Linked DNA regions of Homo sapiens. The protein of the gene in region 3 interacts with the protein of the main gene of each other region in a pairwise test. Each region holds a gene or a part of one and is shown on either strand. Other genes may lie near its edges.

Region 1 (3,569 bases), on a different chromosome or scaffold from region 3:
CCACCATACTGAAGTCTCTGCTTTCATCCATTATCGAATTTTATCCTTATAGCTACTTTCACAAGTAGGCATTTTCACCCTAATTTTACACATGAGGAAAGTGAGGGCCACAAAGGTCCAGTAACATACCTAGGTGACACACCAAGTCAAGCACAGAGCTAGGACTTTGACTCCAATCTGCTTGACTTTTATTTTATTTTCGAGACAGAGTTTCACTCTTTTTGCCCAGGCTGGAGTGCAATGGCGCAATCTCAGCTCACTGTAACCTCCGCCTCTGGAGTTCAAGTGATTCTCCTGCCTCAGCCTCCCGAGTAGCTGGGATTACAGGCGACTGCCACCATGCCCAGCTAATTTTGTATTTTTAGTAGAGAAAGGGTTTCACCATGTTGGCCAGGCTGGTTTGGAACTCCTGACCTTAAGTGATCCGTTCACCTTGGCCTCCCAAAGTGCTGGGATTACAGGCATGAGCCACCACGCCTGGCTTAATCTGCTTGATTTTATTTTTATTTACTTATTTTATTTTAGGTATTATTATTATTATTATTTTTAGACGGAGTCTCGCTCTGTCGCCCAGGCTGGAGTGCAGCGGCCCGATCTTGGCTCACTGCAAGCTCTGCCTCCCAGGTAAACAATTCTGCCTCAGCCTCCCGAGTAGCTGGGACTACAGGCGCCTGCCACCACGCCCGGCTAAGTTTTTTGTATTTTTAGTAGAAATGGGGTTTCACCGTGTTAGCCAGGATGGTCCCGATCTCCTGACCTCGTGATCCACCCACTTTGGCCTCCCAAAGTACTGGGATTACAGGCGTGAGCCACCGCGCCTGGCCTATTTATTTATTTTTGGATGGAGTTTTGCTCTTGTTGCCCAGGCTGGAATGCAATAGCGCAATCTCAGCTCACTGCAACCTCCGCCTCCCGGGTTCAAGCGATTCTCCTGTCTCAGCCTCCCAAGTAGCTGGGATTACAGGCACATGCCACCACACCTGGCTAATTTTTGTATTTTTAGTAGAGACAGGGTTTCATTATATTGGTCAGGCTGGTCTCGAACTCCTGATCGCAGGTGATCCGCCCGCCTCGGCCTCTTAAAGTGCTATGATTGCAGGTGTGAGCCACCGCCCGGCCTGCTTGACTTTAAAACTAAGTGGAGTAACGCTTTGGGAGGCTGAGGTGTCAGGGGCGTTTGAACCAGAGCAACTCCATCTTGAATAGGGGCTGGGTAAAATGAGGCTGAGACCTACTGGGCTGCATTCCCAGATGGTTAAGGCATTCTAAGTCATAGGATGAGATAGGAGGTCGGCACAAGATACAGGTCATACAGACCTTGCTGATAAAACAGGTTGCAGTAAGGAAGCCGGCCAAAACCCACCAAAACCAAGACGCCAATGAGAGCGACCTCTGGTGGTCCTCACTGCTACACTCCCATTAGCTCCATGACAGTTTACTAATGCCATGGCAATGTCAGCAAGTGACCGTATATGTTCTAAAAAGGGAAGGCATGAATAATCTACCTCTTGTTTAGCATATCATCAAGAAATAACCACAAAAATGGGCAACCAGGCTGGACCCGGTAGCTCACACCTATAATCCCAGCACTTTGGGAGGCCAAGGAGAGTGGATCACCTGAGTTCAGGAGTTTGAGACCAGCCTGGCCAACATGGTGAAACCCTGTCTCTATTAAAAATACAAAAATTAGCCAGTCATGGTGGCGGATGCCTGTAATCCCAGATACTTGGGAGGCTGTGGCAGGAGAATCGCTTGAATCTGGGAGGCGGAGGTTGTAGTGAGCTGAGATCGCGCCATTGCATTCCAGCCTGGGCGACAAGAGCGAAACTCCATCTAAAAAAAAAAAAAAAAAAAAAAGAGGGCAACCAGCAGCCCTAGGGGCTGCTCTGTCTATGGAGTGGCCATTGTCTTATTCCTTTACTTTCCTAATAAACTTGCTTTCACTTTACTCTATGGACTAGCCCTGAATTCTTTCTTGCGCGAGATCCAATAACCCTGTCTTGGGGTCTGTGTCAAGACCTCTTTCCTCTAACAGAGGCAGGAGGATGGCTTGAGCCCAGGAATTCAAAACAAGCCTGGGCAACACAGTGAGATCTTGTCTCTTTTTAATATTGTATGTTTGTTTTTGAGACAAGGTCTCACTCTATCACCCAGGCTGGAGTGCCGTGGTGCAATCATGGCTCACTGCAGCCTCAACCTCCCGGGCTCAAGTGATCCTCCCACCTCAGCCTCCCGAGTAGCTGGGACTACAGGCATGCCACCATGCCCAGCTAATTTTTTGTAGAGACAAGGGTCTCACTATGTTACACAGCTCAGGCTGGTCTCAAATTCCTGGACTCAAACAATCCCCCTGCCTCGCTCTTCTAAAGTATTATTAGTACTACTACTACTAATAAATATTATTATTAGTACTACTACTACTAATAAATATTATTATTAGTAGTATCCTCCCAAAGGATTACAAGTGTGAGTCACTGTGCCCTGCCTGAGACCCTGTCTCTATGTAAAAATAAAAAATTAGGTTCGGGCGCAGGGGCTCACGCCTGTAATCCCAGCATTTGGGAGGCCAAGGTGGGTGGATCACCTGAGGTCAGGAGTTCCAGACCAGCCTGGCCAACATGGTGAAGCCCCGTCTCTACTAAAAATACAAAAAATTAGCTGGACATGGTGGTAGGCGCCTATAATCCCAGCTACTCTGGAGGCTGAGGCAGGAGAATTGCTTGAACCTGCGAGGCAGAGGTTACAGTGAGCCGAGATCGTGCCATTGCACTCCAGCCTGGGCAACAAGAGCAAAACTCCATCTCAAAATAAATAAATAAACAAATAAATAAATAAATAAAATAAAATAATTAGCTGGTCATGGTGGCACATGCCTGTAGTTCCAGCTACTTGGGAGATTGAGGTGGTAGGGATCACTTGAGCCCAGGAGTTCAAGGCTGCTGCAGTGAATCACAATCATACCAGTGCATTCCAGCCTGCGCGACAGAGATCCCCACATCTCTTAAAAAATAAATAAATGGAGCTGGGCGCAGTGGCTCACACCTGTAATTCCAGCACTCTGGGAGGCCAAGGTGGACGGATCACATGAGGCCAGGAGTCAAAAAAAAACCAAAAAACAAAAAAGCTGGGTGTGGTGGCACATGCCTGTAATCCCAGGTACTTGGAAGGCTGAGGCATAAGAACAGCTTGAACCCGGGAGGCTGAGGTTGCTGTGAGCCAAGACTGCACCACTGCACTCCAGCCTGGGCGACAGAGCGAGACTCCATCTCAAAATATGATAGATAGATAGATAGATAGATAGATAGATAGATAGATAGGGCTGAGTGCGGTGGCTCACATCTATAATCTTAGTGTTCTGCGAGGCTAAGATGGGAGGATCACTTGAGCTCGGGAGATCAAGGCTGCAGTAAGTTGTGTTTGTGCCACTGCACTCCAGCCTGGGCAACAGAGTGAGATCCTGTTTCTAAATAAATAAAGAAATAAGTAAACAAAAGATAAGTGGAGTAAGAGGCTGACACTGAGACCCTGTCCTAAGCCCCCATCTCTCACATATCTACTCCCTCCCCTGT
Region 2 (3,569 bases), on a different chromosome or scaffold from region 3:
CACAGAGGTGAAGAATCTTGCAAAAAACACACAGCTGGTAAGGAGTAAGCAGGAAGTTGAACCAAGAAGATCTGACTCCTGTGTTTTTAGTCATATCCACAACACTGTATTAAGATTCCCATATCATTGTCCTCATTTCCATTTTAGAAGTCAGTGATAGGAACATTTTATTTGTATAGGCACTATTGTGTTTAATGCTTTCCGATTATATAAATTATATTTCTGATTATATCTTTTGCTTCACCACATCTGCCAGGAAACGTGGAGTACTTACAACAGAAAACTTAATTACAGCAAGTCTGTGGGCTTTTAATTTGTTAAATTTTGGTTCTCCTTTGATTTCTCTATTTCTGGCACTCTCATCCTCATCTTCCTCAACATCTGATGATGATTATCATCCTTTTCATCATTTTTGATATTTCTTGATTGTAAACCTAATTGACTTGTTCAAATTCTCGGTAAATTTAGGCCAAATGAATAATATAATCAGAAATGTAATAATTGCACAATAATATTTGTACAAATAGCTATACCATAACAATACAAAGATAAATACAATAAACATTTTACTGACTGTCCAAGGGTGTTTCCTGAAATGCACTCTGAATTATCAAAGGAATATTGTAATCAACATAATTTAAGGTCAAAATATTTTACTGTAATCAACAGAAATTTTACTTTTTTTAAAATTATGGCAATATTCACATTTTATTTTTGTCAGCAGTTTGTCAATACATTTTTGGTCAGAATATTTAAATGCCCACTTACTATAAATTAAACATAGCTTATCAATTCAAAGCCCTCATTATTCTTGGCAAGTATATTTTTTATTTATAATCAATATTTACCTATTTAAAAATACTTTATAAAGAATTCAGTTTCAATAAGACTGATATGTTCTTAGAATGCTCAGTGATTGTTTTACAATTTCATAGGAATCTTGAATACTGGGCCACACTAATCACTAGATACTTTAAATATCATCTTTGGATATAAGCACAATGGAGCTTACCTGTTGCCACACCATGCACCACTCCCTCCTTGGTTTTGGAGCCTACAAAAACAAATTCAAGACATAAGTCTCAAGCTAGCCTTAAATTGCTGATTAGCTAGTTTTCAATACAACTAATTTAAAAATCTCAATCTTCAGAAGTATATATATTATTATATCTTCAGGGAAAGAAAAAAATATATATATATATCCTAAAACTAGAAGAAGGAACTCCAGTAACCACCACAATAAATAGAAGAAAGCCCAGCTAACAGGAGGTCCTCTCCAATTACGATTTTAGCACAAAATAATGACTTTATCCCCTTTGTTCCCACATCACATGTCAACTTACAGAGGAGAAAAAAGAATGAGATAACACCGGGGCCCAGTGAGAAGATAATTTTGAATTCAGAACTGTAGAAGCTTTAAAAGTACAGCACTAGAGACAGATCAGTCAACCCATGAAACAAAAGGGAAGAAGGATGGAGAGAAGGCTTTAACATGTGCTGAACACCCATTATGTAAAAAAAACATTTTAGGCTGGGCGCAGTGGCTCATGCCTGTAATCCCAGCAATTTGGGAGGCCGAGGTGGGCAGATCACGAGGTCAGGAGATCGAGACCATCCTGGCTAATATGGTGAAACCCCATCTCTACCAAAAATACAAAAAATTAGCCAGGCGTGGTGGCGGGTGCCTGTAGTCCCAGCTACTTGGGAGGGGCTGAGGCAGGAGAATGGCATGAACTCGGGAGGCAGAACTTGCAGTGAGCCAAGATTGTGCCACTGCACTCCAGCCTGGGTAACAGAGCAAGACTCTGTCTCAAAAAAACAAACAGACAAACAAACAAACAAACAAAAAACACATTTTACATATCATCTTATTTAATCTTCATAACAGCCATTTAATATAGTTATATTATGCCCATTTTAAATAGCTGATGAAATTAAAAATCCGAGTTAAGTAATTTATGTAACATTACACATGTAATAATAGGCTATAAGCACATTCAAACTAGGGTCTCTACACAGGATCAGAATTTCTTCCAAACCTTGAACATTACTAAACTTGAATACAAATAATTATTATGTGTATTATTAAAATTATGCTTGTAAAAAATTGTATTCATATCCTCTCTAATGTTGGATTTTTCAGTGTAATTCACACTGTATAATTTATGGAATCGGCATGATTTTTATGTTTTACAGAATTATCATACTCCTTTTTAAGTTTGGATCAGTTTACAAAATGTTATCATTTGCACTTTAATGTCATGATATACTGACAGTGTATTTAACATAAGGTGTATTTTTCAGCAACACTTCCTCTGGGACACCTTCACTCTTTATCACAACCTCTTTCCCCATTATACGGATACCTTCACCTCACTACGTTCCTCTGACTGCATATTTAGAGTCTCCTGAATTGCAGCAGTGACAACATCCTCAGGGTAGCTACTTCCTGTATACATCAACTTATGTTTGATTCAAATTTTACTTCCAGAATGTTTCACTTCCTTTGTTTGCTACTCTTTCATCTTTGCTGGCCAGTTTCCTCTTTTGATTGCGCATTTTCGTGAAACATCACATGGGCTCACCACTGGGAGACAATGTGGCCACACAAGTCCGGGCATTGCTGTCTGTATGAACTGCATAACAGATGTGAAGCAACCAATCTCCAAAAAGCTTTGAAAGAAGTGCTGTGGTTTTGTCACTGATTATAATGGGTTTCTGTTATTTATGTAATGATTTGAAGGCTGAAGAGTTAGCAGCAAAGTTTGTACTTTATGCAATGACTTTCGGTATACTGTGGTAACAGAAATTTGAATTGTGTTGTTAGTGGCTGGTGTTATTTAACTAACCATAGTACCTGGAATTTGTTTGTGCTGGAACTATGCAGAGTGAGAACAGCTGATATTTAAGAGAATATGTTTCAATCTCTATCTCTCATCCTCACCACCTGCACCCCATGTTGTCTTAAAAATGACTAGTAGTAAGAAATGTCTAACAGCTGGAATGCGATCTTTGTTCTTTGCCTTAGCAGTACCTAAGAATTTGACCTTTGGTTAAATTATGAAACATATTCTAAATCAAAGACAATGAGATAGAAGTAGAGAGTAGAATTATGATTATTAGAGGCTGACAACGGTAAGAGGGAGGGGAGGATATGGAGAGGTTGGTTAAAGAATATGAAATTGGAGCCAAATATGAGGAATGAGTTCTAGCATTCTGTAGTACTGTAGGGTGATATACTTAACAATAGTTTATTGCATATGTTCAAAAATCTAGAAGAGAGAATTTTTAATTTTTACTGTTCCCACCACAAAGGAATGATAAATGTTTCAGGTAATGGATATGTTAATTACCCTAATTTGATTATCACACATTGTATACATGTATGGAAATATAATTCTGGATCCCACAATTATATACAATTATTACATATTCACTAAAAATAAAAGAAAAATTAAAAATAGAGTAGCATATGACCCAGCAATCCCTCTTCTGGGTGTAGATCCACAAGAAAAGATTTCAGCATATCTGTTTCCAAGGGCCCCAACACAGTGGCTCTTGCTTGGAAT
Region 3 (3,569 bases):
TTACCACTGCAAATGTTAGGTACACAGGCAGAGTTTCAGAAAAATCTACTGGAAAACTTCCAAAACTTGCTTAAAAGTCAACAATGAATGTAAAGTGTAAGCGCTACTTAGTTTTCAGCATGTAGGAAATTAGGACCAAACCCCTTTGGGGCAATCTAGGTTCAGAAACTTTATGAAGTATTTGACCTGTACCCTAAAAAAGTCTGCACTCAATTCTACCTTGGCAGGAAGGAACCTCTTCTGTCCATTGTCCCTGAGATGTGCACTCAAGTTGAGTTGATCCATGTAATTCAAATCCCTCCTCACAGCTGAAGGCACAAGAGGACTTGTAGGTGAATTCTCCAATAGGGGAATGAGCACACCTCACCAAACCCTTCGGGGGCTGGTGGACAGCATCGCATCTCACAGCTGGAACACACGAGAGAGCACTTTAGAAGTTTGTTTGCATCTCCAGCAATACGTTTCCCAAGGTAACCAAGTTCCCAAGCTCTTCAATAGTTCTTTTTATCTTAAAATAAAATAAAAACAAAGACTGTACCTTCACATGTGGGCTTCTCGTTGTCCCACTCCCCTGTGGGGCCACATTGGAGCCTTTTGGATCCCTTCAACACAAAACCCTGCTCACAGGAGAACTCACAGCTGGACCCATAACGGAAACTGCCAGAAGCACTAGGAAGACAATTCATGTAGCCTCGCTCGGGGTTGGACAAGGCTGTGCACTGGAAAGCTGAGACATCAAAATGATGGTCAGAAAATATTGCAGTGGAACTAGAGAGTACTTGGCGTTTGTTGAGTGAACCCAGTTCATTCAAGCAACACTTGGAGAACTGAAGATTCTTTATAATTCCCTGGACAAATGGGAAGATGGCTGTGTTTTCTTTGAATTTCAGCCCCCTCACTGATCATGGCACTAATTAAAAGACTAATTAATCAGAACATTAGTTCCTGAGCACTGTTCTTCTAACACACAAAATAAATTATGGTCCAAGGAAAGATTTCACGCAGTCTGAGGACAACATATGGGTCATGGATGTTTATAGATGGTGCCAAAAAGAAAGAAAAGAAAGCACCCCTATAAAATTTGTCTGTTTTGCAGTTTGGTTTTTGTGTTATGTTTTGCTACTGGAAATCATTCTGTGCTGGCTTTGGCTAGGACAAGGCCAGTGCCTGATAGTAAAAACTGCTTGTTTTCAATATCCTTGCTCTCACTTTAAAGTGAATTAAAATTTACTGCTTATATATGCATCAATACTATCTCTGTAGCTGACACCATGCTTGAAACAGTCTCATCACTGCTAATTATGAGCCATTTCAGAAGACAGGTGTGATGAGAGTTTTACATTCAAATCATGTTCTCATTATTCTGCTTTCCGAATTTTCTAATATGATTCCTTTAGATTAAGAATTCTGTCTATTCCATGCTAATGTCTACAAAGTTTTATCAGCACATCACAGTTAAAAAAAAACAGCAAAGAATTCATTCTTAACACATATGATCCTTTCCCTGGCCAAACATTAGTTCTTTTAAATGAATCTCAAAGATACGAGGGTTGCTCATCAAATCTGATTTCTATAGTTAAAGTGGGTATTGGTTTTTTTTTTCACTGTCCAAGTTTGAAGATGGTTGTTCTTTAAGAAAGTATAAATCGAAGGATCTCAAGCTTACCTTCACAAACTGGGATTTGCTGTGTCCACTGCCCTTGAGTGGTGCATTCAACCTGGGCTGGTCCCTGCAACATGAAGCCTTCCTCACAGGTGAAGTTGCAGGATGATTTGAAGGTGAACTCTCCAGCAGGGGAATGGCTGCACCTCACAGAGCCATTCTGAGGCTGGCGGACGGCCCTGCATGTCACAGCTGTAACAAATATACGCATTGATATTAGCACGGCCTAGAATTAGCTTGCCCATTTCCAGTATGGGTTGAGAGAAAGAATGTTCACAGTAAGTCTCCATGTGGAACAACTCTACCTTTACACGTTGGCTTCTCGTTGTCCCAATTCCCAGATGAGGTACACTGAAGGCTCTGGGCTCCCATTAGTTCAAATCCTTCTTCACAGTCAAATGTACAGGTTGTGTTCCATGGGAAGCTTCCAGGGTTTTGGAAACATTCCACGAACCCATTGGCTGGATTTGTCACAGCATCACACTCAACCACTGAGGATTTTAAAGAGCACCATGAATTTTACAGAAGAATGATCTTTTCACTTCCTATTGAGCTGGGTGCCTAACAGAGTGAGGAAGCTGCCTTCAAAGGGTAGATCCCAAAGTCCTATGTCAATTCTTAGGGACATGCACAGCCAGAATAAAAGCTTTTATTCTTTTTCATGGATATTCTATCTTTTCTGATTTCCACTTTGCCTATGCTGAGTGGTCTCTAATCTATGTTATCATTTACGTGAGGTAAAAATTTAAAAAAAATAGATTCCAGATTAGGAGTTATGACTAGTACTGACATACGTAGGCTATTCATTTATTTTAGCCCATCAGAGCCTGAAGAACTGATTTTTCTTTTTTTGGCCTCTGGTTCAGAAAGATAAAATTAAGAGAGAAAAAGAGATACTAAGACTGCTTGACTATCATGGTCTTAAGTTAGTCCCATGGCTTGGAAAAGTTAAACAGGGAAACAAGATGAGAAATCCATTGAGATTTCTAGAGCTTTATTGTTTTATGGTCTCCCTTACAAATCACCAGAGCCTCAGAAACACCCATTTCAAGCATAGAATAAAAAAACCTCTCTCAACCCAAGCAGGTACTGGGTTGGCAATATACATTGGCTGAGAGAACAAATTGTATTAAAAACAAAAACAAAAAAAAAACTTTCCCTGAAGTTTTGAAAATGTAAGTTGAATCAAAAAACAGAAGCAATGAGGGATGAGTTACAGAACGTTCTGTGCATTCTCAGAGGGATTTACCATTGCAGGCTGGAATAGGAGCACTCCATTCTCCAGAGGACATACACTGCATGGTCTCCATGCTGCTTGGCAGGTAACCCCTATCACAGCTGATAGAGCAGGAAGAATTGTAGCTGAAGTTTCCCAGTGGGTGACTGCAAACCAGGCTTCCATGCTCAGGGGATTCCAGGGCTGTACAGTTCACAACTGAAAAAGAAACCCAAATCAGTTCTGCTCATCTCTCACCTTTAACAGATAAGAACACTGGAAACTAGAACTACAGTTTGGTTTTTTTTTTTTTTAGTTTAAAAATTTATAAAATTTCTAATGGAATTTGTAAAATTGACTGTAATTCTACCCCTTTTCTTTTATTCAAGAAAATGCTGATCCATAACAACAACAACAAAAAAGCAGTGATGACAACCATAAAAAAGAAATATTGAGTGATATGGGGAGAGTAGTGTAATTGTGTTTACCTCAAAACTGTTCAAATTATATGAACAAACACAGCAAACTTAGGTACCACAACAAATTTCTTGTTACTTTTCTCACAACTGCTAAAAATACTACAGTAAGCTTCCAACCAGGATGAGAACCATTCACAAAGCTATATTTCAAATTTAAGTACTAGAATACATTACAAATTTTAAAACCCTAATGCTGCACTGTCTACTATAG
Region 4 (3,569 bases), on a different chromosome or scaffold from region 3:
GGGTCAGTTCCTCAGGGAGGCAACCAGAGAAGGGCAACCCCAAGGCTGCTCTTCTCCTGTTTCCCAAGTGTACAGGCCAAGGAGCAGCTCAGATGGGGCTCCGACGATGCCTCCTCCAGGCAGTCTTCCTGATGCCCTGAAGAGTGACCAGGCCCTCCTGGGGTGCCCCTAGGGGACTGCAATGTGGGTTGTCCCCCGCGCTACATGAGCCCCAGAATGTAGTTCCTTGTTCACTCCTGTCTCCCATATTGCTCAGGGCTCCCGGAGGGCAGGACTGAGCCTTCACTCCTGTCACCAGGGCCTGGCCAGGCACTGATCTAGGGACAGGCCAACCTGCTCTGTGCACTTCTCTGAGCCTGGGACATGGGGATCCCTGGGCGCAGATGACCTGAGGCCCATAGTGAGCACAGGCTCCACGGTATGTTTAAATCTCCCCTCCACCCTTCACCAACCACGGGACGCTGGGTCATCTACTTAAGCCCTCTATCCCTCGGTTTCCCATCTGAAAAACAGGGCAGCAGCAGAGCCTGCCTCCCAGGGCTGTTAAAGAGGCAAGTGGGCTAATGCCCTAAAAAGATGCCTAGCTCGGGGAAGTGTCAGTTAAATAGCTACCCTTGTTGTTACCTATTGGTATTTCAACTGATGCTCACCCACCTATGTTGGCTGGATGGGGGAGCTAAATAACAGATTCTCGCAGCAGCTGCTACTGGCAGGGACCCTGGGCCCTGCCCTCCCTGCGGCCACTGGGCATGCAGGGCCAGGCCTGCTTTGGCCACATCAGTGACCAGTGACTGGGAGACGGGATGCCCACTGCCCCCAGCTGCAGGCCCAGTGGTGGGGACTGGGCTGTCAGGCGGCGCCCAGGGCTTGCTCTTCACCACCCCCACATTGGAGACCGAAGCCAAACAAACCACAGCTGCTTCCTGACTCTTCTTATCTGAAACACACAGTCTTGGACTCTGTCCTTTGCGGGCTGTTCTCATTACCCAGATTGAAACCAAGCTTCCGAGCCCTGGTATCTGTTCCCCTGAAGCCGTGAGGCTGGGCCCAAATCCCGGGGTCAGGCCCTCATCCGCCCAGAGGCCTCCAAAACAAAGCAGAGGAGCACAGTGATCTTTTAAGGAGATGCAAAGACAAACAGGGCCCAGGGCTGCAGTGAGTTTCCAAGGGCACGCCCAGCATAAGTGGTACATGGGAGCCTCAGCGCGCTGCGACCACAGCAGGGAGGCCCCACGGCCCTGCCAGTGGGGTGACTGGGACAAGAAGGAAACCTGGACCACTCGAGCACCTCGTCTCTCACCCGCTGGGTCTCTTGGGCAAGTCACCTAGACTCGGTGTCTCAGTTTCCCCTCTCAGGACTGCCATGAGGAGTCCTGCAGGCACATGGAAAAGGCTGGTGTACACAGCAGGCACTCACCATGGGTCTGGGGCTTCTGCATGGGCAGGAGGGGCAGTGATGAGCTGGGACTGAGCCTCCCTGGCAGCGGCCTCTCTAGCAAAAGTGAAGGCTGACCGAGGCCTGAGTCAGCTGGAGAAGGTGCCCAGGGGCCGGACTCCCCTGGCTCACACCCACCACCCTCACATCACCACCCAGGAACCAACAAGCCTGTCAGCTCTGCCTGTGAACACCAAGGGCCTCAGCTCTGCTTTGAACACCCAGGGCCTCAGTCAGCTCGGCCTGTGAAGACCAAGGGCCTCAGTCAGCTCTGCCTGTGAACACCCAGGGCCCCAGCATCCCGCCTCAGGATGGAGGTGAAGGACGCCCGTCCCTCACAAGTCTCCCTCAGGGAGAGGGGAAACTCAGCACCAAGGGCTTCGCCCGCATGTGGCCTCACTCCCGAGAGTGTGGCTGTCACCTCTGGCCTGCCACCCTAGTTGGTTACAGAGGGCCCGTGAATTTACTCCACATGTTTGGACGCTGTTGCAAATGGAAGCTGTGAAGTGCTGCAGAGGCCCTGGGAAGAGAAGGACTGCAGAGGAGTGGGGGCACCAGCACCACCTCGAGTGGGTGCCACAAAGGTGACAGGTGCAAGGCTCTGAGGAGGTGGGTAGCCCCACTGGATGGACGCCTGTGCACAGCATGGGAGCTGCACAATGCTGAACTGCAGAGGACCTGGCGGGGGGACCCTCCAGGGGTGGCTGAACCCCGTTCCCACCCAGCTATCCCTGAACATCCCCAGCCTGGGCTTCCCAGCCTGCTCCCTTACCGGTGCCGTCTGCTCTTTCCCGGCTCCTGGTATGCTGGGCCTGGGGTTCAGCGGGGGCCGCTGCGTCTCTAACACCAGGGCCAGGGCCAGCCTGGGGTCCGGGTGCTCGGGGCCTTTCGCTCCTCTCCTGCTCCAACGAGGCTGTGGCATTGAGTCGGGAACGCGCCTGGGGCTGCGGTGCTGGCGGGGGCTGTGGGCAGGAGGGGCCCAGCGGAGCAGTGTTGGAGTCCATCCTGCCTGGAAGAAAAGTCAAGGTCAGGCACATCCAGCACCGGCAGAGCCCGCTCTGGCACTTAGTGTCTGCTGGAGACAGAAAAGCAGAGGGAGGCAGGTGGGAGCTGCCAGACACTCCATACAGGATCTCGCTGACACTCAGTACAGTCCCCATGGGCCAGCACCGCTTCCAGGGAGGAAACCATGGGAGGACACTCACCCACGTGACTCTACAGATGGCATGGCACTTACAATCTCAGACCTGCACATGCCGAGGCCTGGAGTCCCTGCCTCACTGGGCATGAGCCACACAACCCTGGCCTTCCCTCATCCAAGAAACGGGGATGATGATAGCAACACCCAGAGCCCACCCATGTGGAGCCTGGCTGCAGGGGGCTGAATTGGGCCCCACATCATGTGCCCACCAATGTCTGTGAATGTGCCCTTATTTGGAAAAACAGGTCTTTGAAGATGTATTTAAGGATCTTGAAATGAGATCAGCCTGGAGTAGGGAAGCCCTGGCTCCAAGAGCTGATGGCCTATAGGAAGAGAAGTGTAACAGAGCCATGCGGAGACGGGTGACAGTGGCCAAGGAGCAGGAGGACCACTGGCCACTGCCAGAAGCTGGACAGAGGCGAGGAACTGAGCCTCCCTCAGAGCCTCCAGGAGGGACCCACCCTGCCCACACCTTGACTTCAGACTTCTGCCTCCAGAACCATCAGAGAACAAACCTCTGTTGTTTTAAGCCACCAAGTTTCCAGTAGTTTCTTACGGAAGCCCTAGAAAACTAATACGCTGGTACTGAGTAAAGTTAAGTAAATATGAGAGGGGAAGGGAGCTGGGGAGGGGAGAAGAGGGCAGGGGAGAGAAGAGAGGGAGCCAAATGGGTGGAGCTGGGATTCATACCCAGATCTGCCGCTCCACAGCCCCCACCCCAGGCCCAAGCCACAGCACCGAAGTCAGAGGACTGATGCCCCAGAAACCAACACAGAGAGTAAAAAGCAAACTAAGGCAAACAGTGCGGTGGGGGCATCAGAAGAGACTAGAGTGAGCAGAGATCCCGTGACCCGTGTCACGCCGGAGCAAGGGCTTTATTTTATTCAACAGAGGCCCTCACATGCTGCTTAGCAACATGGAAAAACACCACCA

What was found.
Region 1: the proteins of SELE (region 3) and TRIM54 interact in a two-hybrid assay, tested with the Homo sapiens proteins (one large-scale study listed by BioGRID and IntAct).
Region 2: the proteins of SELE (region 3) and SNCA interact in a two-hybrid assay, tested with the Homo sapiens proteins (one large-scale study listed by BioGRID).
Region 4: the proteins of SELE (region 3) and WFS1 interact in binary tests that used the Homo sapiens proteins (3 or more experiments, as listed by UniProt).

The regions. Positions count from the first base shown.
Region 1 is NC_000002.12:27,299,424-27,302,992, reverse strand, and holds part of TRIM54 (tripartite motif-containing protein 54), read right to left. Parts: intron 3,464-3,569; coding exon of another isoform or gene 3,338-3,463; intron 1-3,337. UniProt on the Homo sapiens protein: May bind and stabilize microtubules during myotubes formation.
Region 2 is NC_000004.12:89,827,131-89,830,699, forward strand, and holds part of SNCA (alpha-synuclein), read right to left. Parts: intron 1,055-3,569; coding exon 1,013-1,054; intron 1-1,012. UniProt on the Homo sapiens protein: Neuronal protein that plays several roles in synaptic activity such as regulation of synaptic vesicle trafficking and subsequent neurotransmitter release.
Region 3 is NC_000001.11:169,727,520-169,731,088, forward strand, and holds part of SELE (E-selectin precursor), read right to left. Parts: intron 3,099-3,569; coding exon 2,913-3,098; intron 2,155-2,912; coding exon 1,969-2,154; intron 1,856-1,968; coding exon 1,667-1,855; intron 728-1,666; coding exon 539-727; intron 409-538; coding exon 220-408; intron 7-219; coding exon 1-6. UniProt on the Homo sapiens protein: Cell-surface glycoprotein having a role in immunoadhesion. Mediates in the adhesion of blood neutrophils in cytokine-activated endothelium through interaction with SELPLG/PSGL1. May have a role in capillary morphogenesis.
Region 4 is NC_000004.12:6,276,326-6,279,894, reverse strand, and holds part of WFS1 (wolframin), read right to left. Parts: intron 2,445-3,569; 5' UTR 2,440-2,444; coding exon 2,208-2,439; intron 1-2,207. UniProt on the Homo sapiens protein: Participates in the regulation of cellular Ca(2+) homeostasis, at least partly, by modulating the filling state of the endoplasmic reticulum Ca(2+) store.